Linked DNA regions of Homo sapiens. The protein of the gene in region 3 purifies or fractionates together with the protein of the main gene of each other region. This does not show direct contact. Each region holds a gene or a part of one and is shown on either strand. Other genes may lie near its edges. The genes, in order: ABCA3, SOAT1, TMPRSS12 and SIDT2.

What was found.
Region 1: the proteins of TMPRSS12 (region 3) and ABCA3 purify together in Homo sapiens (affinity purification with mass spectrometry; 2 studies listed by BioGRID and IntAct, with this or other methods). This does not show direct contact.
Region 2: the proteins of TMPRSS12 (region 3) and SOAT1 purify together in Homo sapiens (affinity purification with mass spectrometry; 2 studies listed by BioGRID and IntAct, with this or other methods). This does not show direct contact.
Region 4: the proteins of TMPRSS12 (region 3) and SIDT2 purify together in Homo sapiens (affinity purification with mass spectrometry; 2 studies listed by BioGRID and IntAct, with this or other methods). This does not show direct contact.

The regions. Positions count from the first base shown.
Region 1 is NC_000016.10:2,330,716-2,337,739, forward strand, and holds part of ABCA3 (phospholipid-transporting ATPase ABCA3), read right to left. Parts: intron 2,019-7,024; exon of another isoform or gene 1,532-2,018; intron 1-1,531. UniProt on the Homo sapiens protein: Catalyzes the ATP-dependent transport of phospholipids such as phosphatidylcholine and phosphoglycerol from the cytoplasm into the lumen side of lamellar bodies, in turn participates in the lamellar bodies biogenesis and homeostasis of pulmonary surfactant.
Region 2 is NC_000001.11:179,338,779-179,345,802, reverse strand, and holds part of SOAT1 (sterol O-acyltransferase 1), read right to left. Parts: intron 6,366-7,024; coding exon 6,258-6,365; intron 4,776-6,257; coding exon 4,493-4,775; intron 3,794-4,492; exon of another isoform or gene 3,690-3,793; coding exon 3,611-3,689; intron 2,942-3,610; coding exon 2,860-2,941; intron 2,214-2,859; coding exon 2,168-2,213; intron 857-2,167; coding exon 727-856; intron 1-726.
Region 3 is NC_000012.12:50,880,915-50,887,938, reverse strand, and holds the end of TMPRSS12 (transmembrane protease serine 12 precursor), read right to left. Parts: intron 2,694-7,024; coding exon 2,551-2,693; intron 678-2,550; coding exon 426-677; 3' UTR 55-425; downstream 1-54. UniProt on the Homo sapiens protein: Required for male fertility. Plays a critical role in sperm capacitation and acrosome reactions during fertilization, and also plays a role in the regulation of proteins involved in spermatogenesis.
Region 4 is NC_000011.10:117,173,826-117,181,766, reverse strand, and holds the start of SIDT2 (SID1 transmembrane family member 2 precursor), read right to left. Parts: upstream 3,025-7,941; 5' UTR 2,504-3,024; coding exon 2,321-2,503; intron 352-2,320; coding exon 230-351; intron 1-229.

The DNA.
Region 1 (7,024 bases), on a different chromosome or scaffold from region 3:
TGAGACGGAGTCTTACTCTGTCTCCCAGGTTGGAGTGCAGTGCCGCGATCTCTGTTCACTGCAAACTCCGCCTCCCAGGTTCACGCCATTCTCCTGCCTCAGCCTCCCGAGTAGCTGGGACTACAGGCACCCACCACAGCGCCCGGCTAATTTTTTTTGTATTTTTCAGTAGACACAGGGTTTCCCTGTGCTAGCCAGGATGGTCTCGATCTCCTGACCTGGAACATCACCCTTTTGCAGACGAAGAAACAAGGAGGAAATGCCTGGCCCAAAATCACACAGCAAGAAGCTGCCAAGTCAGGGCTTGAACCTTGGCTTGTTTTAACTTCCAAGTCTGTCTTCTAACTACTACACTACTACAACCTGTGGGTCCTAAAAACACAGAACAACTTCCAACTTCATACAAGTTTTGCATATCACTCCTAGAACATAACATCAGAAACTGAAAGGTAAAAAAGACCCCTAAGCCCCATCACCTTAATAGAAGTTTTCTTTTCTTTTCTTTTCTTTTTTTCTGAGACAGAGTCTCGCTCTGTCGCCGAGGCTGGGCACGATCTCGGCTCACAACAACCTCCACCTCCCAGGTTCAAGTGATCCTCCCATCTCAGCCTCCCAAGTAGCTACAGGCACATGCCACCACGCCCGGCTAATTCTTGTATTTTTAATAGAGACGGAGTTTTGCCATGTTGGCTAGGCTGGTCTCAAACTCCTGACCTCAAGTGATCCGCCCGCCTCGGCCTCCCAAAGTGTGGGGATTACAGGCGTGAGCCACTGTGCCCTGCCGAGGTTTTATCTCTGTGCCCCCACGGCACCCAGCTTGTTGCCTGATACGTGTGAGGCTTTACCTAAAGTCTCACTGAACACTACGCTTGCATCTGTTCTGTTTCAGCAAAAGGAGTTTAAAGGAAGAGATCCTAGAATTACAAAATCTGGCAAGTTTTTTGTTACAAAAGCAAATGTACACAAGAGAAAGAAGTTAATGTTCCTTCTGCACTTGACGCCGAGGCGGCAGAGTCTCCAGAAGTGCTGATGACTGAGGCCCAGGACCGGCCCCGGCTGAGCCCCCATCAGCTACTCTAAGTTAAACACTCAGGACTCCAGCCACTCCTAAAGCTGCCGCCTCTGCCCAGCAAGAGGACAAGAGCAGAGCTTCAAGAACTTCCCTTTGAAGAGGCTCTCTTCACTAGTCCCGGGACACAGTCAGGAAAGGGAAGGCAAACCTTTTCCCCTCTCTATAAAAGGTTTGCTTACTGTTAAAATATTAAACATCACACATATCATTGAGTATCTCAATGTTTGTTTTTTAGGTAAGCAACTGACTCGGTGCAGAGTGAGCGCATACTGCAGGCTGCTCATTTCTCAGAACTCTCTTGATGGCACAAATTCTTCTACAAATGGTCTTTCCAGTAACTGTTGTCAGCTCAAGAGCCATCGGCTGTGCCAGTTAACAAGCGCTGTGGCTCTTCAGGCGGCCAGTGCTCAGCAGCAAATTGGAGAAATCCCAAACTCCTCCATTTCTTTTTTTTTTTTCCTTGAAACTTTAAAATCCTTCAAAATCTGTTTATTATACAGGTGAATTTTGATAGTCACGATGGGCTTATCGGTAGGATTTCTAGTAGCGAGCACAGGCACCAGGGCTTCTAAACTTTTTGGACTCGCAGGGACGGGGATCAGCTACCAGCAGGGTCCGGTCATACAGGATGAGGATGTCTTTGATCTCCTTCTTGGAAGCCTCATCCATATACTTCTGGTAATAGGCCACCAGGGCTTTGGAGATGGACTGACGGGTAGCATAAATCTGGGCCACATGACCACCACCCTCCACACGGACACGAATGTCCACACCAGCAAATCGCTCCTTGCTGAGAAGCAAAACTGGCTCCAGCAGCTTGTACTGTAGCGTGGGCGGCTCAATCTTCTCCAGGGGCCGCCCGTTCACCTTGATGAGACCATTGCCGCGTTTGCAGTGTGCCACAGCTGTGGCTGTCTTCTTGTGTCCAAAGACCCGCACCGATTGCCTCCTCCATTTCTTTATTTGTGGTTTGCAGGTATTTTTGTGTGCACCATAGGCTTGAATTTGCCACCCAATTCCTATGTGCCCTTTTTTTTTTTACACAGTCTTGCTTTGTCACCCAGGTTGGAGTGCCGTTGCGTGAGCAGGGCTCATCGCAGCCTGGTGCTCCTGGGCTCAAGTGATCGTCTTGCCTCAGCCCCCTGAGCAGCTGGGACCACAGGCACATGCCACCATACCTGGCTACTTATTATATTTTTTGCAGAGATGGAGTCTTGCTATGTTGCCCAAGCTGGTCTGAAACTCCTGGCCTGAAACAATCTTCTTCCCATCTTGGCCTCCCAAAGTACTGGGACTATAGGTATGAGCCATGCTGCCTGGCCCTTATGAGCCCTTTCAAAAGAAGTTTTTATATCTGCATATATGGAGCAGAGGTCCCTGGGGGTGGTGGGTCTTGAGACCCATGAACAGAAGGGACAGGCCAGAGTGAGGGGCACAAGACCCATTACGCCATGTGTTCCTGTTGTATTCTGAGCTTGGTTACACCTCCCTCCATGAAAGCCTGTCCACAAAGGCATAGAGAAATCCACTCATGGAAAGAAGGGGGCCTTGATAAAGCCACAGGTGAACCGCCCCAAGATGCACAAAGAGAGCCGCCAACCATGGCTCTGCTCGCTTTGCCACAGGTGTGGTGCTGGTCACATTTGGTGCTTTTCCTTCAGGGGAGGACCCAACATCCCAATATTGACACCAGGAGTCTGCAACAGCCAGCCAGCATCAAAGATCCGCGTGTATGCGCACTGAGGCACGGAGGACAGTCAATTAATGGAGGCCGGTAGAATCCATGGTCTTTTAGGGTATACAAGACAAAAAAGCATTTGTTCATTCAACAATTGCCAAGTTTTTGCTGTCTGATGGGCACTTGTACAAGGTACTAAGGATTTGGAAATGAAAATAACATTCTTTTTTTTTTTTTTTTTGAGACGGAGTCTCACTCTGTTGCCCAGGCTGGACTGCAGTGGTGTGATCTCAGCTCACTGCAACCTCCGCCTCCTGGGTTCAAGCGATTCTGCTGCCTCAGCCTCCTGAGTAGCTGGGATTACAGGCGTGCGCCACCATGCCTTGCCAATTTTTTGTATTTTTAGTAGAGACAGGGTTTCACCATGCTGGCCAGGCTGGTCTCAAACTCTTGACCTTGTGATCCACCCGCCTCAGCCTCCCAAAGTGCATGCTGGGATTACAGGCATGAGCCACCACGCCTGGCCGATGATAACATTCTTAATCCAAGGAGTTCACAGTCCCTGAACACTTGCATGCACTGTAATTGCTGTGACGGATGCTAAATAAAGTATGGCAAGATTCAGGAGAAGACAGGAATTAATTGCGTGTGTGAGACAGCGAGCAAGACAGGGAGATGGCCCGGGAGGGTGATGGGGGGAGGTGACATGGGAAGCCGGTCTTGAATGACTCATTAGTTGGGACAGGAAGGACATTACAGGATCCTGGAGACAGACTGTGTATGGGGAGCAGCGAGTCATTCCGAGTGGCAGTGCAGAGAATGAGCCAGGAAAGGCGCAGACCCTGGGCCCATGTCATCAAGGCGCTGGATGTTGCACCAAGAAGGGAGCTCGGGGTGTGTCCCAATGGGCAGTGATGCTGGGTGAGGGTGACTGGTTTTGTTTAATCCTTTATCTAGGACATTATCTTTTTTGAGAGACGGGTACACAGTAAATATTTGAAAATGTCTAATTCAATGGATCCTGTGGATGAAATGCCCAAACACCAGTAATTTTTTTTTTTTTTTTTGAGACGGCATCTCGCTCTATCACTCAGGCTGGAGTGCAGCCCGATCTTGGCTCAATGCAACCTCCGGCCCCCAGGTTCAAGTAAGTGATTCTCCTGCCTCAGCCTCCCAAGTAGCTGAGGAGTACAGATGCCCGCCACCACACCCAGCTAATTTTTTGTATTTTTAGTAGAGATGGAGTTTTGCTATGTTGGCCAGGCTGGTCTTGAACTCCTGAACTCAGGTGATCCACCTGCCTCAGCCTCCTGAAGTGCTAGGATCACAGGTGTGAGCCACCGTGCCAGACTTAAATATTAGTTCTTTTTTTTTTTTTTTGAGACGGAGTTTCACTCTTGTTGCCCAGGCTGGAGTGCAATGGCGTGATCTTGGCTCATGGCTACATCCACCTCCTGAGTTCAAGCGATTCTCCTGCCTCAGCGACCTGAGTGGCTGGGATTACAGGCACTCGCCACCACGCCCAGCTAATTTTTGTATTTTCAGTAGAGACGGGGTTTCACCATGTTGGCCAGGCTGGTCTCGAACTCCTGACCTCAAGTGATCTGCCTGCCTCTGCCTCCCAAAGTGCTGGGATTACAGGTGTAAGCCACTGTGCCCGGCCCTAAATATTATTAATATATAAAAAAAGCAGGCACATTTATAGAGTATGGTCCTCACCCCTTCCCAGTGGTCTCCAAATGGGGTGGGCTAGACAACCTGCAGCAGTGAAAAAGTGATGAAAAAATCTACTTGTAAGTATTTTTCTTTAAAAATGTGAAAAAAATGGCTTCACTGATTTGTTTGTTTGTTTGTTTGTTTCCTGTAGGGACAGGATCTCAGTCACACACAGTTATCCCGGCTGGAATGCAGTGGTGTGATCCTCCTGCCTCAGCCTCCTAAGTAGCTGGGACTACAGGCATGTACCACCACACCTGGCTTTTTTTTGTAGAGACGAGTCTCACTATGTTGCCCAGGCTGGTCTCAAACTCCTGGGCTCAAATGATCCTCTTGCCTCAGCCTCCCAAAGTGCTGGGACCACTGGCATGCGATACCACACCCTGCCAGCTTTACTGACATTTAATACTTGGACAGACCCTGGTGTTCACGCTGGCTTGTATGTCAGCAGCCGTGGCATCCTGACTGAGGAGGAGGCACCCTGTGATGTGGGGAGTGATGGTGGGCCCTCACCACAAGTCTACTTTAAGCATCCTAGGCGTGTTGGAGTTTACAAGTTTCAGAGCTTTCCAGTTGTGGTCAATTAAAACAAACAAACAAACCACAAAAACTCAAGACCCTTAAATAGCGAAAGCTTTACAATGCTTCGCAGTGATGTGGAAAATGACCATGAGTATCTTTTGTGTGACTTGGAGGTTTACTGGTCATTTCATGGCTTAGTATTTCAAAGAGTCAGAGAATTTAAGGAGAAGGTACAGATTTTCTTTTGTGAAAAGTTCCAAATCCGGAGACATTTTTTCGTTTTTAATGACAAATGACTGCAGCAGTGTGTCATCTACCTTTTTTCTTTTAAATAGACACAACGTAATCTGTCCCTTCAAAGAAAAAGTGACAGTATATGAGAGTTACAGCTTTTCAAAAAGAATCTGTACCAAGAATAGAGCATTTGTGAAAACAGACGTTTGAAGAGGTTTCCACAATTACGTGACTGCGTTCCCAATGATGCTACAAGCGTACTGTCTATATGAACATTTACACCCGCACACCAAAACATCTTCAACACCAGAATCTCCACCTACCCTGATAGCCCCTGAACATACCCAGCCCAAATTCATCAAGGGCCCTCAGATGATGGGTAAATGAAATTGAAAAACAAGTACCCTGCCTCGTAAGCACAGGGTCTGTGCCTTTCTCTGTATCATGTTAATGTGTAAATGCTGTTAATAACTAGGGCCTGAAATATACAGAACTTTTTTTTTTTTTTTTGAGACAGAGTTTCACTCTTGTTGCCCAGGCTGGAGTGCAAAGGTGCAATCTCGGCTCACTGCAACCTCTGCCTCCCAGGTTCAAGTGATTCTCCTGCCTCCGCCTCCTGAGTAGCTGGAATTACAGGTGCCCGCCACCACGCCCAGCTAATTTTTTTTTTTTTTTTTTTTTTTGTAGAGACGGGGTTTCACCATGTTGACCAGGCTGGTCTAGAACTCCTGACCTCAAGCAATCCACCCACCTCGGCCTCCCAAAGTGCTAGGATTACAGGCGTGAGCCACCTCGTCTGGCCAATAAACAGAACTTACAATTGATCTTAAATGCTGGGACTTAGGATTCAATGAGAGTTTATAAATGGGATGTGGACACATGGCTTTCATCTTTAAAAAGCATGTTTATACAATAGTTTTTGTAGCATTCATATGTTGGATAAATTTAATCATGTTTATTTCACCTCTCATCCTTTTTTTTTTTTCTCTGTTAGAGACAGGGTCTTGCTCTGTTTCCCAGGCTGCAGTGCAATGGCATCATTATAGCTCACTGCATTCTTGAATTCCCAGGCTCAAGCGATCCTCCCTCCTCAGCCTCCACAGTAGCTGGGACTTCAGGTGCACGCCACCATACCTGGCTATTTTTTTTTTTTTTTTAGTAGAGACAGGGTCTCACTATGTTGCCCAGACTGTTCTCAAACTCTTGGCCTTAAGGGATTGTCTCATCTCAGCCTCCCAAAGTGCTGGGTATACAGGTGTGAGCCACCATGTCTGTCTGGCCTTCGTCCCTTTAAAAGATCCAAATTTGTATATATTTCTATGTCCATAATACATCAGGACAGTAATTGTAATTTATAACACATAATATATATTGGGCTGCATGTTTACATTCATTCTTTTACACATAACAGTACACATGAAAAAAAAAGTCTGAGGCCTTTTTTTTTTTTTCATGCAGGGTCTCACTCTTTTGCCTAGGCTGGAGTATAGATAGTGGTGTGATCATGGCTCACTGTAGCCTTGACCTCCTGGCTCAAGTGATCCTCCCACCTCAGTCTCCCAAATAGCTGGGACCATGGGTGTGCACCACCATGCCCGGCTAATTGTTTGATTTTTTTTTTTTTTTTTTTAGAGATGGGATCTTGCCATGTTGCCCAGGCTGTTCTTCCAACTTGTGGCCTCAAGTGATCCTCCCGCCTTGGCCTCCCAAAGTGCCAAGATTACAGATGTGAATCACTTGCACTGGCCAAGGCCAATTTATAACCTCAGTGGCCCTTGTGGGGATGAGGTAGGAACAAATGC
Region 2 (7,024 bases), on a different chromosome or scaffold from region 3:
TGAGACAGGAGGATAACTTGAGCCCAGGAGTTTGAGAATGGCCTGGGCAACATAGGGAGACCCCGTCTCTCCAAAAAATAAAAACTTAGCCAGGCATGGTGGCATGCACCTGTAGTCCCAGCTACTGAGGCGAGAGGATCACTCGAGCCCCAGAGGTCGAGGCTAGTAAGCCATGATGACACCACTGCATTCAGACTGGGTGACAAAGAGAGACCCGATTTCAAAAAAAAAAAAGGCAAGAAAACAGTGACAAGAGAGATTTAAAAATGTGGTCAGCAGCACCCAATGCTTCATGGAGGTCAACTTGGATAAGGGGTAAAGTACATCTTAATCCATCCACTGGATTAGAATATGGATTACTAGTAATTTCTACAAGTAATTTCTACAAGTTACTAGTAATTTCAACAAGGGGCATTTAAGTGGCTTGGTGGAATCAGGAGCAAGATTACAATGAACTTAATAGCGAACAGGAAGACACAGCATGAATGTGGACTGTCCACTGTCAGAGAAAGGCACAACTTGAGTGAAAGCCATAAGATGAAAGACTGACCTGAGACTGGATGAAGGATACTTCATTTATAAAGTAGATGCAAAAGAGGTCAAGATGGGCATAGATGTATAGAAGTTTAGATGAAAAAGTAGGCAAAGCAAAGGTGCTCATAGGCAATAGCTTTCTATTTACCTCGTGAATTTATGCATGACCAAATTAACAAGTACCCATGTTACCTGGCAAGATGGAGTTAAATACACATAGGACCAGAACACGAGCGCTGAAGGGCTCCTGTTTGATATTCCGAAACAAGGGGGCACAAAGCCTTTCAAAGATGTAGTACACATAGAAAAAGCAACCAAAGACCTGGAACATAACAGAGACAGAATTATAATAACGATGGCTTAATAAGATGGAAGGCGATTTTTTTCTCTCCAAAAGAAAGTACAGATGTGACCCTTACAGTAATGTTCGCATATGTATTCCATTTAACACTAGTATAGAAGACTGCTATAATCCTTCAGGGAGATTACTCAAGCCTAGTTTCTACCATCACTTTTCCTAACCCTTTACCAAATGATATTTTTAGAAGAGCTTACTCTTGGAACCTGTTTTCCTGCTGCTTAAAACCCGTAACATGGCCGGGCACAGTGGCTCACGCTTGTAATCCCAGCACTTTGGGAGGCTGAGGCGGGTGGATGACTTGAGGTCAGAGTTCGAGACCAGCCTGGCCAACATGGTGAAACCCCATCTGTACTAAAAATACAAAAATTAGCCAGGCGCAGTGGTGGGCACCTGTAATCCCAGCTACTCAGGAGGCTGATGCAGGAGAATCGTTTGAACACAGGAGGTAGAGGTTGCAGTGAGCCAAGACTGCATCACTGCACTCCAGCATCGGTAACAGAGCAGGACTCCTTCTCAAAAAAAAAAAAAAAAAAAAAAAAAAAAAAAAAAAAAAACCCCTTAATGAAAGAACTTACTTCATAAATGGGCATTTGATTGAGACACTAATTTAAAATGGGATCTTCCAGGATTAATGATTCTGATGGAGGTGGGAGGAGGAATGGGTAAGAGTCAGACTATACCCACATACATATATACCTCCCCCAAAAACAGGAAGGAAGGGGGAAATTAATGCTTACTGAAATAACCAATTAGAATTACTTTATAAATAATACATTCTTTTTTTTTTTAGATGGAGTCTTGCTCTGTCGCCCAGGCTGGAGTGCAGAGGAGTGATCTCAGCTCACTGTAACCTCCATATCCCAGGTTCAAGCAATTCTCCTGCCTCAGCCTCCTGAGTAGCTGAGATTACAGGTACGTGCCTCCACGCCAGGCTAATTTTTGTATTTTTAGTAGAGATGGGGTTTCACCATGTTGGCCAGGCTGGTCTTGAACTCCTGACCTCGCGATCTGCCCACCTAGGCCTCCCAAAGTGCTGGGATTACAGGCGCAAGCCACTGCGCCCAGCCTAATATATTCTTTTATTAAAGAAAATTACTTTTGATGTTGGCAAAACAAACACCATTTACCGTACTGGAAATAGTTTAAAAGACTGCATAATGTCAACAGAAAGCATTCTTAGCTCCCAATTAGATTTAACTAGATTATATTATTATCATAAATATGAATCCCCATCCCCTAATCAACATACCTTAGGCAGTTACAAAAACTTACCTGTGCAAACTTCATAGCGACATAACCCCATCTTACAGTGGGATTCCTGAAAAAGAAAGAAACAAAAATAAGGTTTCTAAATAAAGTAATTGAACTTGAATAAAGACCCTCACAATTAATGTTTTTTGGTCAGGCGCGGTGGCTCACACCTGTAATCCAAGCACTTTGGAAGGCAGTGACCAGGAGTTCGAGACCAGCCTGGCCAATATGGTGAAACCCCGTCTCTAATAAAAATACAAAAAAACCAACCGGGCGTGGTGGCACACACCTGTAATGCCAGCTACTTGGGATGCTGAGGCAGGAGAATCACTTGAACCCAGGAGGCAGAGGTTGCAGGGAGCCGACATAGCACCACTGCACTCCTGGGTGACAGAGCAAGACTCCCATCTCAGAAAAAACTAAAATTAATTAATTAATAAAAAATAAATTAAAAATAATAAAAATAAATAAAAATTAATTAATTCAGAACATCATTTATGACCATATGAAATACTTTATAATTCTGTCAAGAATTACTATAATCAAATTAGACTTCCCTACTCACCATTTGAGGCTTCTCAGGTCAGACAGAAAATGAAAACTCATTCTATATTTTCTATGTCCCTACATGAACTGGCCCCTGTTTACCTATCCCACCTCACTCATGCCACACTTTTGGTGTTTACCACATTTCTGGTTCACAGTACCATTACCTGGGATAGCTGTCACGGTAGATAAGGGTAGGAGCAAATAAGAAGTACAAATACTGGTTGACTGTAGGTATTGGAACAGTGCCTAGAAAAGGAAAACTATAGTTAGAGCAAAGGCTCTTTGATTTTTCACAGCAAAAATACAGGGGGGAATATAAGGAAGCACAGAACAGGGAAGAATAAAATGACTTATCAGCTCATGTTCTTTTTTCCTGATCTCCGGAATGACTTCTTATTCTTGCACGAATTGAATATTACCAATCTCTTTAAACCAAGTTATTCCTGTGACTGAGATAACTTCTAGAGTGTGAAGCAACAATTTGCAAAGAATAGGCAGGCACAGGTGTAATGAGGCTATTAACATTCCATAAAAATAATGCAAAGTTGCAAAAGATAATCAATTTTTTAAAATTGTAGGTTCAAGGGCAAAGCCGGAATAGTCAGGAAACAATGAAGTGGTCCTCAAAATCAATATGGATAATATATATTTGAAATAAAACACAATCTCTACATTATATAATGTGACATCCCAGAAAACAACAAAGGGTGAAATATCCAGCCAATAATCCTTTAAACTAATGAAATTACACAAAGAAAAGAAAAGAAAAAGAGAGAGAGAGAGAAAGAGAAAGAGAAAAAGAGAGAGGGAGGGAGGGAAGGAAAGAAGGAAAGAAGGGAAGGGAAGGGAAGGGAATGGGGTGGGGGGAGAGGAGGGGAGGGGAGGAAGAAATAATGAACAAAAGAAATTACATACTTGATTTCTCCTTAGCTGAATTTAGTACCCGAGGCACGTTCTCTCTGACAAATGAGTGGGCCTTCATTACAAAACGAATCTACAAAAGCAGGAGGAAAAAGATGTCTCTTCAAAGAAAGTCTCCTGCAAGTGTCCTTTCCATTAGTCAAATGCATTATAGATAGCCAGTAAAGTCAGAAAATCCTGATAAGTGTATAAACAAATTAAAATAAAACCTTTATTATATAGTTACATGACAAAACAATGAATCTGACATTTCAAAAGTGAAGTTTTTAATTATGAAAATATTTTATAATTTAAATGACTTTTACAAAAAGTATTCAGAAACAAAATCTTGATGCATCAAAAATAATTCAATGTGGCCGGGCGCGGTGGCTTACGCCTGTAATCTCAGCACTTTGGGAGGCCGAGGCAGGCGGATCGTAAGGTCAGGAGTTTGAGACCAGTCTAGCCAATATGGTGAAACCCCATCTCTACTAAAAATACAAAAATTAGCCGGGTGTGGTGGCAGGCGCCTGCAGTCCCAGCCACTTGGGAGGCTGAGGCAGAAGAATCACTTGAACCTGGGAGGCAGGGGTTGCAGTGAGCCGAGATGGTGCCACTGCACTCCAGCCTAGGTGACAGAGCGAGACTCTGTCTCAAAAAAAAAAAAAAAAGTTCAACGTAATTTATTTATCAAAATTCAGAGAACATGGAAGCTACAATGAAACTTAAGAGGTGAGATGATTCTAGTTTAACAATTTTACAGATAATGGCAAAAGAACAATATATGAAAATTTATCCAAGTTAATACAGCTAAAAATAATAGTATCAGTATGTCATCATCATTATTATTATTTTAGCCGAGGACAGCATCGCCTTGGGTAACACTTAAAACCTTACCTGCTCGAATATAATGATGAACCGGGAAGCTGGTGGCAGTGTATATGCTAACACAACATATGTTGGTCCAAAACCTAGAACTCCAATCTGGAAGATCATGAAAAGAAAGCCATGGAAGAGAGAACGGATCAGCGGATGAGAACTCTTGCTATAGCCAGTGGCCCAATGTTGAAACAGAAAATAGGGAACTGAAAATGTAGACAGGAACATGATCCACCAGGTCCAAACAACGGTAGGAAATTTGCCAAAAGCATAAGACAGGAGGCTGAACTCAAGCACCAGCCTGGGGAGAAAAGGTACAGAAAAAGAACATAGAGGTGAATTTTTAATATACACTGAGTTCACAGAATTTAAAAGTTTCAAACACCAAACTTTCAACCTTAGGAAACACCACAACGTTAATACGCTGAAGTCATGGATGTAATAGTTCTGCTAGTTAGAGATCTGCTTCTAACCATCTGCTTTACAATATATATATATATATATATATCAACAATATATGTTCTTTAGAAACAAATTTTCTAAAAGCCCTAAGATAAATACAGTCTTCAAACTTAAGATATCTAAGATAATTGGACTTTGAACTTCTGAAAGATTAGATTCTCACATTAATTTTCTAACTGTAAAATATTCTATGGAAAATATTCAAACAGCAATCGTTCTTATGTACAAAAGATGATTTTTCAGAAGAAATAGGTACAATTTAAAAATATGTTAATATACTATACCATTATCTCCAAACTTAATTTTCAAAAAAAGTACATAATTCAATCCATGATTACCACGCTGTCATTTTTTAAGCTACAATTTGAGTTTTAAAATTTTATTTTGAGATCTGGTCTCCTTTGCATCCAGGCTGGAGTGCAGTGGCACAAACACAGCTCCACTGCAGCCTCAACCTCCCTGGCTCAAGCGATCCTCCTATCTCAGCCTCCTGAGTAGCTGGAACTACAAGTGTCTGCCACCACGCCCAGCTAATTTTTAAATTTTTTGTAGAGATGTTGCCCAGGCTGGTCTCCAACTCCTAAGCTCAAGTGATCCTCCCGCCTCGGCCTCCCAAAGTGCTGAGATTACAGGCACAAGCAACCATGCCTGGCCTATAATTTGACTTTCACATTAAAAAGAAATATCAACTTTTTCAACCTTCAATTCCAATAAGCTACTTGTTTTAAGTAACCATCTTAAATAAAGACAATCAAAAAGTTAATAAGTCATATACAGTTATCCCTCCCTATACATGGGGGGTTGGTTCCAGGAAACTGTGCAGACACCAAAACTTATGCAAATTCGAGGCCCACAGTTGGCCCCGTGGAACCCACAGATATGAAAAATCTGCCATTCTTATATGTGTGTTTTGCATCCTGGAATACTCTAGATCCCAATCAGCCTTTGCTTGCAGATGTAGAACCCATGGATACAGAGTGCTAAACACATTGATTGAAAAAATTCTGTGTATAAATAGACATGCACAGTTCAAACCCGTGCTGTTCGTAGGTCAACTGTGTATAAAGTTCTCCCATTTGGGAAAATTACCTAGAAATTACTGATTATGGTCTATTCAAATAAACCATTTTAAAAATAAAAGTAATGAAACTTCTAATTTTCTCCATCAGTTAAACTTTTCAGGGCAAAGGAATATCACCCTCAAATCTGCTGCTTTAGGATTTCCTGAAGCAATTTAATCAATTTACCCTTTACCAAAATTTAGTGAAAACCTCTAACTTCTCATGCATCAACTAGCCAGCCATCTTTTTTGTTGTCTTACCTTCCTTCATCAATGTAATCTACTACAAGTGTGCTGAGGATAAAGAGAATGAGGAGGGCAATAAACATGTGATATATTGTTCTGATGTGGTCCACTTCAAGCAGTTCACTGTAAATGTAGTTCAAACAAAACAAGTTAATAATGTATATTTAAATTTAAAACACCATAAAATCTTTTCTTAAAGCAGTTAACTTAAAGCAGTTGAGAAGATGCTTAATCCACTCTCCAAAAACATCTCAAAAAAGAATGGTCTACATTCTTTAAAACCTACCAGAAATGGATGTTTTCTAAGTAAACAAAGGCCAGTCACTAAAAACAGGAAACAAACTATTTCAAATGTTAAGAATTTTTTAATCCTATTCATATTCTACTCCCTAAATTTAATATATATTAAGTACTACCTATTTCCAAAATGTTAAAATTGACATGAGTTTCTATAATGTTGATCATGATGATGATGATAACCAATTACTACCCTACACGTCTATAAAACTCAACCATTTACAAAGATTTTACCTTCTCATTGACTTTTGTATTTAAGACTGGTCTAATTTTCTTTTAGAATATAACAATAATATAGATGACTTTTCCTAAATAATCTTTTATATCTGACTAAAACAGGTTTTTAAACTTGTTTTAACTTGTTTTTGGAAAGATAATGCTAATCTTTTAAATGATTTTGAGTAATCTAATATACTACTACTCAATCTCTGGACCAAGGATCTTCACAGTCTAATAAAAACTCATCTAAGCCATAGAAAACATGT
Region 3 (7,024 bases):
AATATACTTTGAGAATTGGAAACAAGATTATAATTTAAAAAAATCATACAAACATTTTTTAGAATAAAATCTAAGAAAGAATTTTTATTAATTTAACCAAATGACAGCTTTCATTTTAATTATAAACTATTATTTGGCATTTATACACATAAAATATATGTTTAACTGAATATTTTGTACAAACTCTATGAGTATTCCAGATACAGAATTATGATTATAAAATAATCAAGATATTTCAAGGAGACATGTGATTCAGTGCCAAAATTACAATTGTATATCTGTCACAATACTTATAGCCCATAAAATGTTCACATGAAATCTCTAATGTAGGCAATTAATTGCTAGAAGAATAAATGATGTTCATTATATAGAACATAGAAAGGGACACAATGCAAAATAAAGATATGAAAGCCTTCAGAATTTCTTTATGTTGTTGCTAGTAAGATGACAAAACATAAAGCTATGAGGATCTGGCCACGTAAAATATTTATAGTAAGTATGCCTTGAGTGCTTGCATGGAAGAAATGCTCTGTCAGCCACTTTTGGTAGAAGGATGGCCCAATATAGACACCAGGAAAACCTCTTCGACCACAGCCATGTCCGTAACTGGTAATTCCCATTACAAAAAATCTTTTATATTCTGGTAAGTAGCACATTAATGGTCCCCCACTGTCACCCTGTCAAAAAAGTCCCAAAATAGTGTTTGTTACTTCTAGTATTCTTCAAGCAACAGTAACACTGGAATAAATTATTTACATCAAACATACATTTATATAAATACACATTTTCAATATACCCCCAATTTATAAAGATCACTAGATTTTGAGCTTAAACTTCCAACTCAAACAGGAGGAATTCAATTTTACCCAGGTATTTGGAGGAACCATATAGCTGGTAGATAAATTTCTCATCTGCCTGGTTTTGAGCCAGAATACTATAAATCAAATTGTTTGGATTTTTAAATATAATTACTTAGGAGAAATATAATTTAGGAAGTGTGCAAAATATTGTCAAAACTGTCTATTATTAGAATATTCTCTTGCTGAATACTGCGTGTGGAAAGGATAACTTTAAGATGTATGAAGGATTCTTTTAGGCACGTGTGTGGTTTGCTTGCCAGGGAGAGGAGTAAACTGGCATCTTGCAATAGAAGACAAGTTTCTAAGTGTTGACAATAGCTAGTGCAGGAAAATGAGCATAAATGGCAAAGCCTCTCAGTAGTATTATAAATGACAGGTCACTTTCATAGTCTATACAAAATTAGGAATGCACCCAAATGCTGTTACTAAGGCCTGTTAATGCACTGAAAACAACAAGGACACTGAGATAACTGTTTCCGATTCTCTATATAAGGCAGGCATTGAATAATTATTTTTTGATGATGAGGATGTTTGGCCTAGGAATGCAATTCACTTAGATTGGATTCTTTACTATTTCATTCAGCAAGATTTTTAAGGAAAAGGACACAGAAAAGATAAACTTTAGATTGCAGAAATGAGAATGAGTAGGAAAAGGTGAGAGCATGGGTTACTCAGGAGTGAAGGACTAGTAGCTTTGGAAATAGTGAAGAAAAGAGGAATAAAGGAAGAGTAAAAAAGCATGAGACAAAACAAAAAATGGATCAATTGTACTTCATTAAAAAAATTAACATTTGTGCTGCAAATGATAACCTCAGAAAAGTGAAAAAACAGTCTACAGAATGGGAGAAAAATTTTGTACATTATGTATCTGGTAAGGGACTTGTATCCAGAATATATGAAAAATGCTTATAACTCAGTGATAAAAAGACAACTCAATTTAAAAATGAGGAAGGGATCCAAATAGACATTCTGTAAAGAAGATATATAAATGGCTAATAAATACATGCAAAAATGCTCAACATCATTAGTCATTAAGGAAATGCAAATTAAAACCACTATGAGATACCACTGCGCACCCACAAGGATGGTTATAATAAAAAAGACAGTAACAGGCTGGGCGCAGTGGCTCACCCCTGTAATCCCAGCACTTTGGGAGGCCAAGGTGGGCAGATCACTTGAGGTCAGGAGTTCAAGACCAGCCTGGTCAACAAGGTGAAGCCCTGTCTCTACTGAAAATACAAAAAAAAAAAAAAAGAATGGCCGGGCATAGTGATGTGTGCCTGTAATTCCAGCTACCTAGGAGGCTGAGGGATGAGAATCGCTTGAACCTGGGAGGCAGAGGTTGCAGTGAACAGAGATTGTGTCACTGCACTCCAGCATGGGTGACAAAGCGAGACTATCTCAAATAAAAAAAAAATTGAGCTGTACACTTTTAACTAGGTGAATTATATCTCAAAGGTAATGATTAAAAAAAAGAATTCAAGGTAAATTCTGCCTACTGATGACAGCAGAAACCATGGAATCAGGAACCAAGAAGATTTGGATTGTTGAAATAGTTAAAAAGGAGAAAAAATGATTTATTATTTTTAGGCCTGATAATTAAGACCACCAGAAAGTTATCAAAGGCCTTGTTTGACAAGTTCCCTTCTGGCTTCAGAAAATATTTTAAAGGAAAATTACTTGGTCTTACCCTGCAAGTATCAAAAGCTCCATCTTCATCACCTGCACAAAATGAAGTGTTAGGAATTATTCCCCCATAACTCCTCTCAGAATTACACATCTCTCGAGAAATATAATGCACTTCTGCATCTTGTAAAATATTTGTAGCGTTACCTGTTAACAAAAAATACCAGTAAGTTATCTTGGAGCAGACATTTTTACAGTGATTTAAATGTTAGTGTTTTATGTTTTCTTTCCAAAGTGACTGATGCAATAATTATGTAAAATTATATTCATATATATGTGTATGAATATGTATGTATGCCTAGGAAGATTGTAGAAGAATGTTTACCTAAATGTTTGTTTGTTCGTTTTTGAGATAGAGTCTTGATCTATTGCCCAGGCTGGAGTGCAGTGACGTGATCTCGGCTCACTGCAACCTCTGCCTCCTGGGTTCAAGCAACTCTTGTGCCTCAGCTTCCTGAGTAACTGGGATTACAGGTGTGCAACACCACACCTGGCTAATTTTTTTTTTTTTTTTAATTTTTGAGATGGCGTCTCACTCTGTCACCCAGGCTGCAGTGCAGTGGCGTGATCTCGGCTCACTACAACCTCTGCCTCCCAGGTTCAAGCAATCCTCCTGCCTCAGCCTCCTGAGTAGCTGGGATTACAGGCACTCACCACCATGCCCAGCTAATTTTTGTGTTTTTAGTAGAGATGGGGTTTCACCATGTTGGCCAGGCTGTTCTCGAACTCCTGACTTCAAGTGATCCACTCATCTCGGCCTCCCAAAGTGCTAGGATTACAGGTGTGAGCCACCATGCCTGGCCAGATGTGCCTTTTTATATTCCCACTAGCAAAGTACGAGGGTTTCAAATTCTTCACATCCTCATCAATGCTTGTTATTGTCTAACTTTTTAATTATAGTCATCCTTGTGTGTCATCCCAGCACTTTGGGAGGCTGTTTTAAAATTACTGCTAGTGTATAGAAATGGAGTAGATTTTGTATATGGTCTTATGCTGGCTGTATTACTAAACTCTGTTAATTCCAATGGATTTTAGAGCCTATTTTAGTTACATCATCTGTGACTAATGAATATTTTGTTATTTCCTTTGTAAGTTGTGTGTGTACCTTCTTCTAGTATTAACACACTTGGTAGTACTTCTACAGTATTGAATACAAGTGGAGAAGTTGTTCTTGATTTTAAAGGAATGTTTTACTGTAATGATGTTTGCTGTAGGTTAGAGGTCATTAACCTTAATTAGGTTAAGGAAATTCCCTTCTATGTCTAGACTGTTAAGAGTTTCTAACAATGCTTCTACTGCATTTATTCAGAAAATATTTTTTATCCTTTAACCAATCTGTGATGAATTCCATCAAGAGACTTCTAATTTTATTTATTTATATTATTATTTTTGAGACAGGGTCTTGCCCTCTTGCCTGGGTCCCAGAGTGCAGTGGCACAATTAGCTCACTGCAGCCTCAAACTCCTGGGCTCAAGCAATCCTCCCACCTCAACCTCCCGAGTGCCTGGGACTATGGGCATGTGCCATCATGCCCAGCTAATTGTTATTTTTGGTAGGGATGGGGTCTTGCTGTGTTGCCCAGGCTGCTCTCAAACTCCTGGCTTCAAGTGATCTTCCCACCTTGGCCTCCTAAAGTGCTTGGATTGCAAGCATGAGCCACTGCACCCAGCTGAGACTTCTCATTTTATTTTATTTCATTATTATTTATTTACTTTTTGAGACAGAATCTTGCTGTGTCACCCAGGCTGGAGTGCAGTGACGTACTCACTGCAACCTCTGCTTCTTGGGTTCAAGTAATCCTCCCTCCTTAGTTTCCAAGTAGCTGGGATTACAGGTGTGTACCACCACACCCAGCTAATTTTTAAATTTTTTGTAGAGTTGAGGTCTTGCTATATTGCCCAGGCCATTCTTGAATGGGCCCAAGCAATTCTCCTGCCTTGGCCTCTCAAAGTGTTCGAATTACAGGTGTGAACCACCACAGCTGGCTGACTTCTAATTTTAAACCCTTGGATTCCTGAGATAAACCTAATTTGGTTATGATTAATTCTATTTTTTTTGAGTCAGCGTCCTGCTCTGTTGCCTAGGCTGGTGCCTAGTGTAGTGGCACAGTCATAGGTTGCCACAGCCTCAACCTCCTGGGCTCATGTGATCCTTCTGCCTCAGCCTCTTGAGTAGCTAGGACTACAGGTGTGCACCACTATGCCCAGATAATTTTTTGGTTTTTTTTGTAGCAACAGTGTCTCAGTATGTTGCTCAGGCTGATCTTGAACTCCTGGCCTCAAGCAAGCCTCCTAATTTGGCCTCCCAGAGTGCTGAGATGACAGATGTGAGCCACTGTACCTGACCATCAATTCTATCTATAATATACTTTGTAGATTTAGTGTGTTATTACTAATAATTTGTTTGAAATGCCTGCATTTATAACGTTGGGCTTTCTCTTACTGCGTTTACTTGATTTTGGAATCAATAATATGATTATTTCATACACTGAGCTGGAGTATATTCCTTCCTTTTGTATTCTTTGGAAGCGTATGTATAGGATTTAGATGATCTGTCTCTGGTATTATGGTAGAACTCACTTGTTCTGAGTTCTGGTTTTTTATTTTTGAAAAAGAAATCTACTGATTCAATTCCTTTACACTCTATAGGACTATAGAGGATTTCCATTTCTTCTTTGGTCAGTTTTGGTTAGTTACCATTTTCATATTTAGTCAATTTATTAATTTCAGTTTGGGTTATTTACAAAGGAATTTATTCGTTTTGTCTAAGTACTAAAATTTACAGCATAACATTTTAAAAAGTACTGTGCTATATGTTAGTTCATAATATTAATTTGTATTTGTGCCTTCTTTCCTTTTGTCACCAGTCTTACCAGTGGTTTGTTGTTTTTTCAGAAAACTGGATTTTGGCTTGTTGGTTTTCTCTTTTCTATCTTTATTTTCTGTTCATTAACTGCAGTGCTTACCTTTATGTCTTTTTTTCTGCTTTCTATGGGTTTAGAATGTTCTTTCTTTTTTTAGCCTCCCTCCATAGTAGCTGAGACTACAGACATGTACCACCATGTCTGGCTGTAATATTCTTTTTTTTTTTTTTTTTTTTTTTTTTTAGAGAGATGGGGTCTTGCTCTGTTGCCTAGGCTGGTCTTGAACTCCTGGGCCCAAGCAATTCTCCCACATTGGCCTCCCAAAGTGTTGGGATTACAGGTGTGAACAACTGTGCTTGGCCAGTGCAATGTTTATTTAAACTTTAAAAAAGCTAGACTTTGAATTCATAGTGTTCAGACTTTATTCTTCAATATTAGGTCAAATGTTTGCTCTTCCGTATGATTCAAACTAACTAACTAAATAAACATATATATATATATATATATATATATATATATATATATATATATTTTTTTTTTTTTTTTTTTTTTTTTTTTTTTTTTTTTTGAAGTGGTCTCGCCCTGGGCTGGAGTGCAGTGGCGTTATCTTGGCTCACTGCAACCTCTGCCTCAGGGGTTCAAGTGATTCTCCTGCCCCAGCCTCCCAAGTAGCTGGGATTACAGGCTCACGCCACCACGCCCAGCTAATTTTTTGTATTTTTGGTGGAGACAGGTTTTTTACCATGTTGGCCAGGCTGGTCTCGGACTCTTGACCTCGTGATCTGCCCGTCTCAGCCTCCCAAAGTGCTGGGATTACAGGCGTGAGCCACAGCACCTAGACTCAAACTAAAAATATATATTTCTAAAACTTTAAATTTTATGTTTTACCTCTATCTGCAGCTCTCAAGTTTTGTTATGTACCATATACATTATTGTTCAATTCTAAGTATTTAAAATTATTATGATTTCCTCTTTGACATATGAGTCATTTAGTAGTGTGTTTTGAATTCTCCAAATGTGTGATGTTAAAAAGCTTACCCTTTTGTCATTTTTTTACAGCTTTATTAGGGTTTAATTTACATAACATGAATATCACACATTGTACCAATGCAGTTGAGTGATTTCTGCTAAATTTACACCAGCACCACAATCCAGTTTTAGAGTATTTCCTTCACCTCACAGAGTCCTCCTATGCTCACTTGTAATCAATTCCCAGCTCCAGCCCCACACTTAAGAAATGACTGATGGGCTGGGCTCAGTGGCTCACGCCTATAATTCCAGCACTTTGGGAGGCTGAGGCGGGCAGATTACCTGAGGTCAGGAGTTCAAGACCAGCCTGACCATCATGGAGAAACCCCGTCTCTACTAAAAATATAAAAAATTAGCCAGGCATGGAGGTACATGCCTGTAATCCCAGCTACTCGGGAGGCTGAGGCAGAAGGATTGCTTGAACCCGGGAGGCAGAGGTTGTGGTGAGCTGAGATTGTGCCATGGTACACAGCCTGGGCAACAAGAGCAAAACTCTGTCTCAAAAAAAAAAAAAAAAAAAAAAAAAAAAAAAAAGAAATTACTGATTCCTGTCTCTATAGGTTTGCCTTTTCTTGAAATTTTATAT
Region 4 (7,941 bases), on a different chromosome or scaffold from region 3:
CAGCCGGCCTGCCCCTCCAGAGGAGCGAGGCCCCACCTCGCCCCGTCTGGTCTCCACCACCTCCCTGCGAGGTGCACAAGCTCCCGGCTGGTGGGACTCGGCCCTTGTGCTGTTGACCAGCCTCCCAGCCCAGGGAAAGGGGAGGAGAAATGGGGGGGCTCCTGGTTGAGGCTCCAGCCAAGGACTGGCCTAGGCTGCCCCGCTTCCCTGATGCCCAGATCCTACTCACATCCCTCGCAGGATTAGGGGCACCTGGAAGGACACCACAGCCTCCTTCTGGCGGACCACAAACAGCAACGGCGCCCCCTTCTGCTTGTTCAGGACGTTCACAGACACACGCACGCCCTCTGTCTGCAGAACGACATGGAAATGCCTCTCAAGCCTCTGCCACCAGGGACACGTGGCTCCAGAGACTATGAGCCCTGCCCTCCTTCATGCCAGCTACTTTGGTCTTTCTCCATCTTGGTCGGGCCAGGGAGTCATCTCTGCCTCTTCTTCTGCCAGAACAACCCCCAGACTCCAGGAAAGACCTGTGCTGAGTGCAGCTCCTGGCCGGCAGACATGTGCAGGGCAGCAGGACCCAAGCAACCGCAGGGTCTCACCCTCTGCCAGGAAACACGGTGGAGGCCTTGCGAGTCTCCAGGATACCCCATTCCTATCCATGTGCACAGGATGCACAGGCCTGCACACACAAACGTGTACACACGCCCCCACACACGAAGACACAGGAGAACAAGAAGTGCTCCTCAACCTTCCTGTGAGCCAGGAAGCCAGCAGGAAGCTCTAGTTAACAGCTAACCTGGGGCCAGAGCCCAGAGGAGTTGAGGAGGGGTAGGTATTGAAGGCCATGTTGTATCCTTAGCTCCCACCAAGGGACAGGGCTGTGGAGAAGTCACTTTACTTCTCTAAGCCTCAACTTCTCCCTCTATAAAATGACAGCCGGGTGCGGTGACTCACGCTTGTAGCACTTTGGGAGGCCAAGGCAGGAGGATCATCTGAGGTCAGGAGTTTGAGACCAGCCTGGCCAACATGGTGAAGCCCCATCTCTACTAAAAATACAAAAATTAGCTGGGTATGGTGGCAGGCGCCTGTAATCTCAACTACTTGGGAGGCTGAGGCAGGAGAATCGCTTGAACCGGGAAGGCGGAGGTTGCAGTGAGCTGAGATCACAAAACTGCACTTCAGCCTGGGCAACAGAGTGAGACTGGTCTCAAAAAAAAAAAAAAAAAAAAAAAGATAAAGTGATCTTCACCCTTGGAGCTATGAAGGAACATATATAAACAATGGGAGCTTAAAGGAAAAATAAAACCAAATCGATCTTGGAATGCTTGTTATTGGGCTGCTGAAACCCAAGCCCTAGGGCAGCATTTCCCAAAAGAGTAAAAACCACAGCTCTCCAGTGCCTTTAGATATGGGAAAAAAGGAAGAAAGGACTCTAAGCAGAAAGAGATCAAACTTCAGAGAACCAGGCACTGGGGGCAGATCCTGGCCTGCCACAGAAACCAAACCACTCCCCGTTCTGAAAAAAAATCAGATTCCCCATTCTCAACTCCATTGCTTCTCAGTAAACGGCAGTCATGGAGAGAGAGCAAGAGACCCGGGCACGAGACCACACAGCCAGGTTGCAAGAATTCTCCCAATCTCAGCTCTGCCTGGGGTCTAGACTTCCCACACTAGCTGTGTCTATTTCAACTCAGGGACTCACAGCTGGTGAAGAAACCAAAGAGAAGTCAGGGTGAAGTGGATTTTTCACAGTGGACAAATTCCCCTTCTCTTCCCACCCAACTTGCAGTTGGCCTTATAAAACCTCTGTCACCCTCAATTTACAAGGCCAGCTGGCTCTCCCAGGCAGGAAGAGGGCTGGGAAGCCCTGCATTCATCTCCCTGGGGAGTCTGAGATGTAACTTGCCTGCACAGAGCTTTTCAGTTCTGGGCCAGTCTCATTCCCCTGAGGTTTTCTGGGCAAGCCCAGTAATAAGCCTGTTTCCTCTCCCACCGAGACCCCACAGAGCTGTCAGATTCTGGGGTTTAGGGTAGAGAGCAAGCCATGTGTGCTCAGACCACAACTGATGGAAGAATGGGGGCGGAAGAGAAGATGGGAATGAGCCAACTTCAAAAACTGCCCAGCTGGAGCTTCAGAGAAACATTGGTGGCAAAGGAAGGAGGACTGGTCAAGAGGCTCCAGTGTGGTTCTGGGAACTGGGAACCTAGCAGGACAGCTCGTTCCTGGGGCCTCCCAAAAGGGTAGCGGGGCGGCAGAATCGCCTAGCCCTCGTCGGCTTCCCCACTCGCCTCTGGCCCCTAAGCCCCCAGCCCTCACCCTGTTGCGGGTCACAGTATGGTTGAAGGTGTAGATGTTGACCAGCTCGCTGTTGACCTCGTCCACGTAGGTGCGCTCAAACTCGGCGTCTTTCTGCGAGACGTTCTTGGGCCCCAGAACCCCCAGATGGCTCTCGACCGAGGCCACCAAGAGCACCAAGAAGGGCAAGCCCAGAGCGAACATGGCCCCGGCAGGGCGGCAGTGGCAGCGGTGGTGGCGGCGGCGGCGGCGACAGGAGACAGGACACCTCCGGGACGGGTTGCGGCTGCGGCCGCAGCTTCCAGCATCTCACCAGGACCAGAACTTTAACCCCGGCCTGAGATTAGGAAATGTCCCCTCCCAAGAGCCCCGAAGAGGCTCCCAGGGTCCCCGCAGGGGAGGGGGCGGCCGGGAGGGGGCGGGGAGGGAGGGGATGCTGGCTACGGGAAGGGGTCCCAGCTCGCGAGGGGCTGAGTACGACCTGAGACCCTGGAGCCCCGGGCCAGGGCCGTGAGAAGGAGGGCGGCTGGTTGCCGGGAGCCTGGAGACGCCGGGAAAGGGGAGGGAGGAAGAGCCGGCGGCGGGGGCTGGCCGCGGAGGAAGGCGAGTCGCAGAGTGAGGGGCGTGATAGGTGGTAGCTACCCGACGCCGTGCTGGGCTGCGAGTTTTCCGAGGTGCGGGCCCTTTAAGGGCGGGCGGACGCGCCGTCCCGACGCACGAACACTGAAAAGTGAGCTGCGCCGCTGGGCGATAAACAGCAGGGCTGCTGGCCCGCCCGCTGACGTCAGGGGAAACTGACACAGATTTAAAGGACCAGGTCCCGCATTTGCCCTTAAAGGGGCTGCAGCTGTCTAGCTGAAGGGGAAAGCTTGCAATGCCTTCTCCAACTCCTACCCAACTCTCTCCCGTGATTTTCACCATCTCTGAAACTCACGTTGGAATAGGCAGATGTTTCTGTTAACAATCTCCAAGTGTTGGGTTCTTGCTGAACAACTCTTACATTTGCTCAAACATAAGGATTCCCCCACCCCCACCACCACCTTTACAACTAACATCGTCCAACCCTGGGCCACTTTTTCTCCGGGGATCTTAAAAAATGAAAAACTCGAAGGATTAGGAAACAGGACGGTGGCCCTACCGGCGGAGGGGAAACGGAGGCAGCACTGCAGGAGGAATCCCCATGCCTTTCCCACCTCCCTCTAGAGGGGCCACACAACTGCAGGGACGGCCTTCCGAGCTTTCCAAGCTTGCCGGGCTGTTTCCCCTCTTCTCTCAGAGACAGTTACAAAACTCATTGAAAGATACTGACCTTCAGTGTAAATTGGTGAAAACTTTTCTACAAAATATTTTGGCACTGTTTCAAGAAACTTAGAGAGCTTTATACCCTTTGATCCAGTAATTCCACTTCTGGACTCTATCCTAAGGAAATAGGAAGCACAGATAAAAATACCTGGGCAGCTACGCTTATCACTGTGATATTTATAATATAAAGCAAAAAGGAAATGACTTGGATATCCATAATGAGGGATTGGTTAAATGCACTATCATGAAGGCATCAAAAATGATGCTTAAGACTTCACAGGACACGTAAGCAGAGAATTCAGGATATGACACTAAATAAACAGTATATAGAGCCAGGTGCCGTGGCTCACACGTGTAATCCCAACACTTTGGGAGGCCAAGACAGGTAGATCACTTGAGGTCAGGAGTTCGAGACCAGCCATGGCCAACATGGTGAACCCCATCTCTACTATAAAAATACAAAATTAGTGGGGCGTGGTGACGCGTGCCTGTAATCCCAGCTACTGGGGAGGCTGAAGCAGGAGAATCGCTTAACTCTACCAGGCGGAGGTTGCAGTGAGCTGAGATCATGCTCCTGCACTCCAGCCTGGGCTGCAACAGAGCAAGACTCTGTCTCAAAAATAAATAAGTAAATAAAACCGTATATATTCCAAATGCATATAGACATGCATAGAAAAATAGAAAAAAATTGTACTAAACATTTAGCAATGTCTCCAGAAAGCAGGGCAAATTTTAAAAATAAAATTTAGCAGTAGTTATCTTTGAATTACAATTTTAAAAATAACACATATTGTATATCATTTTCCTTTAATTCTAAAAATATAGAGTAGTACCAAAAAATAAAAAATAATGGATTGTGAGTGGTTCTTAAATTTTATTTTTTATATTTAAAAAGATTTACAAATGTTCTACAATGTATATATATTTATATATTGCTTTTTTATCTGCCGGGGGGTGGAGACAGGGTCTCGCTCTGTTGCCCAGGTTGGAGTGCAGTGGCACAATCTCAGCTCATTGCAACCTCTGCCTCCTGGGTTCAAGCAATTCTCCTGCCTCAGTCTCCCGAGTAGCTGGGATTACAGGCCATGTGCCACCACGCCCAGCTAATTTTTGTATTTTTGGTAGAGACGGGGTTTCACCATATTGGTCAGGCTGGTCTCGAACTCCTGACCTCAGGTGATCCACCCACCTCAGTCTCCCAAAGTGCTGGGATTATAGGCATGAGCCACCATGCCTGGCCACATATATTGCATTTATAAGACAAATTAGACTTTTTTTTTTTTTTTTTTTTGAGATGGAGTCTCACTGTCACCCATGCTGGAGTACAGTGGTGTGATCTCAGCTCACTGCAATCTCCGCCTCCTGAGTTCAGGCGATGCTCCTGCCTCAGCCTCCCAAGTAGCTGGGACTACAGGCACCCGCCACCACACCCTGCTAATTTCTTGTATTTTTAGTAAAGCGGGGTTTCACCATATTGGTCAGGCTGATCTCGAACTCCTGACCTCGAGTGATCCACCCACCTAGGCTTCCCAAAGTGTTGGGATTACAGGCGTGAGCCACTGCGCCCGGCCAAATTAGACATGTTTAAAGGAAAAGAAATGTGGCCACCTCTGAAGCTGTCAGACATCCTAATAAAGCCACCCAGATCAGTGCCTTGTCAGAGTTCTCTCAGCTGGCAGGATTGCAGCAGTCTCAGCTCCCAGCCCTGCCCAACTATCTGGAGCCTTGTTCCAATGAAGACTATTTTACCTTATGATCAGTTAGTTATATTTACTCATTCCTGCAATAAATATTTAATAAGCATCCACGATGTGCCAGGTACTGTTGTAGTTATGCTGGGCAAATGGTGAGTGGAGGAATTAGTTTTGGCCCCTGTCCAAGCACAGCATACTTGAGGATGAAGACCAGAAGCAAGCTGCACCCCTTTTCCAAAGGGTTCACCAATTAGAAAGTCAGCTGGAAGATAACCTTATGGGTTTCCTTGGCCAACCCCTCATTATACAGATGAGGAAAGTGACGCTCAGAAAAACTTCAGCCCATTAGTACCTCACTAGACTCAAGTTTGCACCTTGGTCCAGTACTGTTTCCAGCACATCTAGGCGAATATGAATCAGAGAATCCTCAGGATGGCAAAAGAGGTTTCTTCATCATGAGCCCTCCATGCAGTCAGCTGCCAAGTTTGGAGAATCAGTGTAGGATTTCCTCAGTCCATCTGGACTTTTCTTTCATGGTAATCCTGCTCATCTTGCCAGTAAATAATCTGAAACATTAAGAAACACTCGTGATACATTGCCCAGGCTGGTCTTGAACTCCTGGCTTCAAGCGATCTGCCACAGCCTCTCGAGTAGCTGGATTACAGGCAAGCACCACTACTCTAAGTTGGCCTCATAACTTTGGGGCAAGATGTGACCCTACGCCTGTTTTAAACGCACATCCAGAGTCCTACTTCACACTTAATTCATCTTGGGAGGTGGAGCCCAGAAAACTGCAATTTAACGGGGCACTCCAGAAGCTTGCTATGCACAATGAAGTTTGAGAACCACTGCTCTGGAACCAAACAACTGTGGACTATCACTATTTCTGTTTGCTCCCTTTCCGCTGGCAATATCTGGAGAGAAATCCATCCAAGCAAACTCTGAAGGGATCCTTCCCTTTTGCAAGGTCTCAAGACTTAACTTTTGAATCGTCAGGACCCTGCGTCTACAGAGTGGGAGGGCAGCAACTGCACATTTTCTTGCTGTTCCCAGGTCTGCAGAACTTTCCTCAGTCCCTCTGCCCTACCCCGCACTTATGAATAGGTCCTTTCTGAGGTCTGTCCACTGGGAGAGAATGCCTTTTTGTTGGCTGCAGCAGTCAGCAAAAAAAGGCAGTGGTGTGTCTCAAAGCCAGACTTGTGAGCACACAGGGGAGATGTCGGGGCCTCAGGGATGTGATCCTGGCCTTGTGCACAGGTCCAGCTACCGCATTCCCTGGCATAATATACAAAGAGCTCAACCCTAACCGTGGCCCTCAAGCGGTCAGGGTGGGGCCATAAGGCTTATTTGACTTATATTTCCCTGTGGACCACCCTTCCTGAGCCTGAGTGTTGAATGGACCAAAGAAATGGGACCATTCAACACACAGCTGAGGAGCTTGCTGGACCCATGAGTCCAGCTCCATTTTAAGTCACAGGGGATTTATGAAGTTTGGGGTGAGAGGACAGGGAGGAAGCTTCAGGTGGCTCAGGGGTATTGTTAAAATGACCTGAAGATGGCCTGGTGCGGTGACTCACGCCTGTAATCCCAGCACTTTGGGAGGCCAAGGCGGTTGGATCATCTGAAGTCAGGAGTTTGAGACCAGCCTGGCCAACATGGTAAAAGCCCGTCTCTACTAAAAATACAGAAAATTAGGTCAGGTGCAGTGGCTCACGCCTGTAATCCCAGCACTTTGGGAGGCCAAGGTGGACGGATCACCTGAGATCAGGAATTCGAGCCCAGCCTGACAGACATGGAGAAACCCTGTCTCTACTAAAAATACAAAATTAGCCGGGCGTGGTGGCACATGCTTATGATCCCGGCTACTTCGGAGGCTGAGGCAGGAGAATCGCTTGAACCTGGGAGGCAGAGGTTGCGGTGAGCTGAGATCACGCCATTGCATGCCTGGGCAACGAGTGAAACACCACTAAAAAAAAAGAAAAAAAAATGGCCAGGGGCGGTGACTCACGCCTGTAATTCCAGTACTTTGGGAGGCTGAGGTGGGTGGATCACCTGAGGTCAGGAGTTTGAGACCAGCCTGGCCAACATGGTGAAACCCCGTCTCTGATAAAAACACAAAAATTAGCTGGGTGTGGTGGCAGGCGCCTGTAATCCCAGCTACTCGGGAGGCTGAGGCAGGAGAATCACTTGAACCTGGGAGGCAGAGGTTGCAGTGTGCGACCACAGGCCATTGTGCTCCAGCCTGGGCAACAAGAGTGAAACTGCCACACACACACACACACACACACACACACACACACACACACAAAAGACATGAAGACTGCACTCGAGCAGGATTTTGTAAGAATCACAGTAAATGGATTAGCTGAATCCAATCAAATTATTTAGGAACCTGGGAGGTAGGGAGTAGCCATGCCTATGGGTGGGAGACAGAATCAAAACAGATTTTAGTATCATGTAATGGTATAACTTTAACCCAGAAAAAAAAGATTCAAAACCAACCCCTCTGAAGGAAATGAACCTGAAGCTTTCTGTTTTCACTGTGATTATAAAAAGGGCTGTTTTTTCATTTGGTGCTTAGAAAGAATTGTCCCAGACATAAGCAGCTCCAGCAAGAGTTCAGCACTTCTTTCCATCATACAAGTT